2 separate regions of the Homo sapiens genome follow, and region 2 is linked to region 1. A link means that fine-mapping ties the variant in region 1 to the expression of a gene that starts in the linked region. Tissue or cell type: aorta. Region 1 holds a variant in brackets; the other region holds the start of a gene. All regions are shown on one strand. Distances are between the middles of the regions. Region 1 has its middle 120 kb from the start of ARPP21. Region 2 holds the start of ARPP21 (cAMP regulated phosphoprotein 21).

The links. PIP is the estimated chance that this variant, and not a neighbour inherited with it, causes the effect. A credible set is the group of variants that fine-mapping cannot tell apart.
Region 2: ARPP21 starts here. The variant in region 1 is the best candidate, but not a certain one, in a credible set for the expression of ARPP21 in aorta (GTEx, PIP 0.84).

The regions. Positions count from the first base shown.
Region 1 is chr3:35,522,725-35,525,644 of GRCh38, forward strand. No RefSeq gene overlaps it. Among named protein-coding and RNA genes, the nearest start is that of ARPP21, 120 kb to the right of the region's middle. The variant T/C (reference allele first, on the strand shown) is at 1,321.
Region 2 is chr3:35,637,894-35,640,813 of GRCh38, forward strand. ARPP21 (cAMP regulated phosphoprotein 21) reads left to right here and starts at 1,632. Exons shown (of 21, transcript NM_001385562.1): 1 at 1,632-2,505.

The DNA.
Region 1 (2,920 bases):
GCAACAAGACGAGACACTGAAACCTAGTTCCTACATTAGAATCTGATTTTGTTGTGAATACAAAATTCCTTCAGTTGGTATCAGACGTCCAGAGCATGTTGGGGTAGGGGAAGGCTGAGGGAATGGTTTCAGGATGAAACTATTCCACCTCAGATTGTCAGGCATTAGACTCTTAGGGAGCGTGCAACCTAGATCTCTCACATGTGTGGTTCATGCTAGGATTTGTGCTCCTATGAGAATCTAATGCGGCTGCTGATTATGGCCTGAGGTGGAGCTCAGGCCATAATGCTCTGCGGCCCGCTACTCACCACGTGCTGTGTGGCCTGGTTCTTAACAGGCCACGAAGTGGTTGTGGCCCCGGGTTTGGGGACCCCTGGTCTAGAGACCTTAATTGAGAAGGATCATGAGGCTTCATTTGTACCCAATGGAAAAGAGCTTTATGATCCATTATGATGTCTGGCTCAGTGATGGGACACCGGACTGAGGTCTCTTGTACTGGAAATGGGACAGACTGGTTCAGTGCCCCACCTTCTTTTCGACACTTGCAGAGTCTAAGATATGTAAATAATGCTTTCTCACACAGCTAGTGAATGCCACATACTGGAATGAGAAACCAGATTTTCTGAGTTCCAGGAACCCTGATGTTCAGGATCAAAAACCCTCTAATACCAAGAGTCAAATTATCTTTCCTTTTTTCTTGTTCTAGCAAATCATTTTTACAATTATTTCAAACCGTCTCTTGATACTTTTATTCTTTCTAGCACCTCAGTTAAATTGCTTTTCTTCTCACACAACCATTATGACAATCCCTTTTTAAACTGGTTTCTTTGTCTCTCACTGATTACTATACAATCAGCCCTGTTCTCAGTACTAGATAAATCTTCCAAATGCATTGTTATCATAATCTCAATCTCCAGCTTTAAAAATTCAACAACATAAACATTTGCAAGAAAAAAATGTATTCCTCAAACTACATTTTAATCCCTTTCATGACCTCAAACTACCAGTTGGGAACATGTATTTCCTACTATGATCCAGCATAAAAAATATCCACCAGCTATTTTAGTTTTGTCATACATTAAAATATGGCATCATAATCTCTACCTAACAAAACCCTTAATCTGTTTTCTCTACCTCGTTGTCAGTAACTGCCTCCCTACCTCTTTCCGGTAGTTTATCCTACCTCACAACAGAAATATCTATAAAACTTCTAAAATTGTCTAGTTAAATAAAAAAAGACAAACATCTATACACATAGATTCACAGTTTGCTTTTACCCAACAATAGTCTCATTGGCGGTGCAGCAGCCAGCTGAAATAA[T/C]TGGAAGAGTGAAACATTACATTACGTAAGGATCTTGGAATGTGAAGAACAACAAAGAATGTTCACTCAAATCTATTCTTTACACAGTAATAAAACCCAATAAATATTTTTCTGATAACAATGTTGATATCAAAAAATTGTAGTTACTCAGTTTGGCCATAATTTTATTAGCCTGAAGTATATCTACATACTGATTTTCCCCTAAAATAGATCCTTTTGAATCCCTAGCCAATTCTTTTCATTACTTTTCTGAAATTGATCAATTTCATCCCTGGCTTGTTTGACAGTCAACAAGGAAATTGAATTGCTCTTGAACAAGTAAATGGGTTCCCACTCTTTTCCTACTTGAAAGAAAATACTTATTTGTAGCACAAATAAACACCATACATGTTCATTTCCACAATACAAAAATTCTTTGAAGAATTCACTGAACTGGAAAATATAGTGGGGGTAAGAAACTGTACACAAGCCTGGAAAATGAATTAGGATAAAAAATCTGACACCGTCTGTACCTATTTTTCTCCTTGTGTAAGAAACAGCTTTGGCACCAAAAGTTCCAGTTATTTTATATAGCTCTTTACCAGAAGACCGGATCTGGTGAACTTGCTGGGAATCTATTCTAGAAGTGCTAGAATTTTTTTCATTGAATGTTCTTTGATATTGTTTCTACTTTAATTAATTTTAAGAGAAAATCAGAAAATACTATTAGTTAATACAGGCAAAATTCTGGGTATATGTAATTCCACAGATTACTACAGTTTATCTCCAAAAGCCATAATCAAATGTCACCTCAAGCCTTTAGAAACCTAATTTCACGTGACTGTTTCATCGGTCTTTGTCATGGAGTCTGCACCATGGCCTCCTGCTGTGTGGTTGGCTCATAGGACTCTTCCCCTGAAGAGACCATAGAGATAACTCTGTGATGTACTCCCTCTGTGCTATAGTCACTCTGCTCTCTGTGCCTAGCAGGGTCAGCTGTGTTTTCTTTTCCTGAGAGTTCTGTATTTTAAATGAGATTCCAGTTGTCTATGGTGTACTTCTATTAACCTAAGAGTTGCCCTCCTGGTGTAATCATTAACTACTGCTCTTCTGTGGCAGTTATTTTGAGAATGAGGTGTCCATTTAGGAATTCCAACTTCAGAATTCTATTTATGTTCTCAAAATGGTAACTGCTTTAAATCATCATCACATTAATGTATACTCTTTAAATTGTTAAAATACAGCACTGTATTAAGCAAAAAGGAAAACTGTGTCTCCCCAGCTGCATCATCCTATATGTTCAATTCTTCAAAATTAGCTACTGTTAACAGTTCAATGTGTATACTTCCAGCCATTTTAAGTGTGTATATGTTTGTGTCTCTGTATATGTGTGTATGTGTATACATGGGTATATAAAGGACACACACATATATAATTTATATTCATATTACTACATTTCAATGTTTATCATATAAAAACATATATAGCATATTCTTCTAAAAATATCTTCATTTAACTCTAAATACAGGCATACCTCAGAGGTATTATGGGTGTGGTTCCAAGACCACTGCAATAAAGTTAATACAGAATAAAGTGAGTTGCATGACGTTTTTGGTTTCTC
Region 2 (2,920 bases), 120 kb after region 1:
CCAAGGGAGACAATTTCGAATAGTTGGAAAATAATTACCTACTCATCAAGGGTCGGTACAACCTCATTCCATTTTTACAGTAGTTTCTAGAAGTACATGTATCATTTATTTGAGATTTATAATCAATATCTTAGCGTATATGAACACAGCCATAGCTGTAGAAATCACATTTCTATAATAATGCAAAGGCATTTATGTTAATAAATCTGTTTGTAATCTCTGTCATTATGGTTGGGTGTCAATAAGTGAAACTAAAAGGATGTGGAAAATTTCATAACATGTTTTATGCTAGTTATTTGTTTGTTGTCTATTCATGGGGTTACTAATTACAACTGGTAAAAGTTGATTTTCTCCTCTTCAGTTTATTGTGGGATGGGGCGTTCATTTCGCCAGATACACAGTTATTCAGTGTCTACATTTCAGAAGCTGAATTGCTGGATATAGTCAAAATGAGCTTTGGCAATTCCATGTGTGAGTGTACAACTATAATTTTGCTGCACATTAATAACAACCTTGCAAAGAAGCCCAGAATCAAATGCCTTGCTCTCAGCTGGGAGCAGAAAGCTAGAGTGGTATATCTTGGCTGGTGACCTATAATGTTGGAAAAGTAGGCTCTACATTCACTCAGAAGGAGTAGGTGGAATTCCGGAAATTTATTCACTCTCCTTCACTACGCCTTTTCCTTTTTTTTTTTTTTTCCTTCCTTGTAGTGTGTTAGTGAGTGCTCCGAGACAATGAAAAAAAACAATGAATTACAGACAATAAAAATAGTGCATCTCTAGAACAAGCGGTAAAATCAAGGCTTTTATTTCTTCAGGTGTCAACTCTGTTCCTTCCCCAGGTCCTACCCTGCCCAGGTTTCTGTGGCACCTCTGTGATTCCAAATCAGCGATCAGGTGGGCAGCGGTCTGGGCAGTCACCCACAGGGAGTACACTTGGTGCTGCACGTTCGGACTTTCAGTCTTGCTCAAAGCAAAGAATCTCCAAGAGCGCTGAGGCTACGGATTCATTCGGGTGGGGCGAGGTGTTATTATTGTGGGATTGTCTCTGCAGAGTTGGCCTGGAGAGTGAGCGGTGGAGGGAGTGGAACAAGGCTTCGTCAAGAGTCCCCAGGAGTCCAGGGGCGCCCCCGAGACGGGTACGCTGGAGGGCCTGGGCACGGGGGACAAGAGAGAATACATGCCTGCTCGCTGGGAGCAGGGAGGCGGTGTGGCGGGGCAGGGGGCAACGTGCCAGTTTTCTTTCTGATTAATGATGCTCACGCTGCTGCGCGTGGCTCATGCGCTTTGTCTCCAGCCTTAGGGCTGGCGGAGAACGGCCCAGGGAATGAGTGGTACCGCGGGCGCCCGGCGCACCCAGCAGGTGCCATCACTCTGGATGGGCCAGTTCTGGATGCTCCCAGTGGCGCAGAGGCGGCGACACTGGCAGGCGTCCGGCTGCCGCCACCTCCCGGGTGTGGCGGGTCTGGGGCCCGGGGTCTCCGGCCAGAGCAGCTGTGGAGCCACGTGCAACACGCGCGTTGCCCTCAGCCCGGGCGGGGACCGGACGCATCCGGAGCTGCGGGGAGGAGCCGGGCGCCGCCCCCGGCGGCAGTGCCAGCCGCGTGGGAGGGCACGGACCGGCGGAGGGGCAGACGACGGAGGCGGCCAAGCTGGAGGAACGGGACCGAGGGATCGACCGAGGCTGGCTGGCTAGGGGTGGGACTGGCAGAGCTACGGACAGGTGGGAGCAGTCAGACAGCCTGAGAGAGGGAGACCAGAACGCAAAGAGAGCGAGAGCATTAAGTAGGCAGGGAGAGGCACACAGAAAGATAGACAGCAACACTCGCGTGCTCCCTCCCTCCACACGCCCTCCTCTTACCGAGCGAAGCGGCCAGGGGCACAGAGTGGGAGAGGACTGTGGGCACAGAAGACCGGAAGAGGGACGCTGCATTGCTGGTGGGACGGAGGGATTCGGACGGACGGACAGACCAGCGCACAGACTGGCAGCCTGCGAGAGTGGCAGCTTTGAGAGCAGAGCGCAGCAAAGCGAGAATCCCGCGCCGAGCTGCTAGTCGGACCCACAGACGGTCGGACTGACAGACGTGCAGACGGACAGAAGAGCAGACAGGAGGCGGGGGCGCGTTCACTCCCGGCGGCCAGCCGGCCAGAGAAGGCGGCGGTGGCACCTTCTGAGCGCGTCCGGAGCAGAGACCAGCAGCAGCAGGGGCAGCGGGGACACAAGCCGCGACCGAGCCGCCGCCGCAGCCCTGGCTGCCACAGCTGTGTGGGATCCCAGCCGACACTGCAGAAAGCTCCTTTTACTAGCAGTTAAATAAATCGACCAAAAACAAAACAAACAAACAAACCCAACAACAACAACAACAACAAAAGCCAAGCCAAAAGCCAAAACAAACAAATCCAGCCAAATCAATCATTGAGAAACAATAATATTAATAAAATCCAAAACTAAATCAAACCAATCAAGGCACCAAGACGCAGGGGGGATATCCACAGTTCGATCAAGGTAATAATCAAGGTCTTCCGACGTGAACATTGCACGCCTTTTGTGGATTTTTAGAATTCCTTCTTTCTTTCTGCCATATATCTGTCTGTTTCTTTTGAATTTTTTCTTGTCTGTATTTCTTCTTCGTGTTTGTAGAAAGCTGATGTTGTTATACATGTATTGTGTTTTTTATGTTTCGTCAAGGAGGGATGGACGCTCCTTCCCCCAGAAAAGACAGAAATGGAAAGCTGGAAGTTGGCAATGATTTTCATCAGAGAAGTCTACAGTGATTTGTATAGGCTTTATGGTAGAAAGTTTGCAATGCTCTTTTTGAAAGAGACCTATTGAAGAGGTAGAAAGTTATACTCTGTTTGTTGTCCTGGAAGGATTGGGGTCCTAGGTCCCAAAGGGCTCAAGGGGAAGAATAGAAAAGATG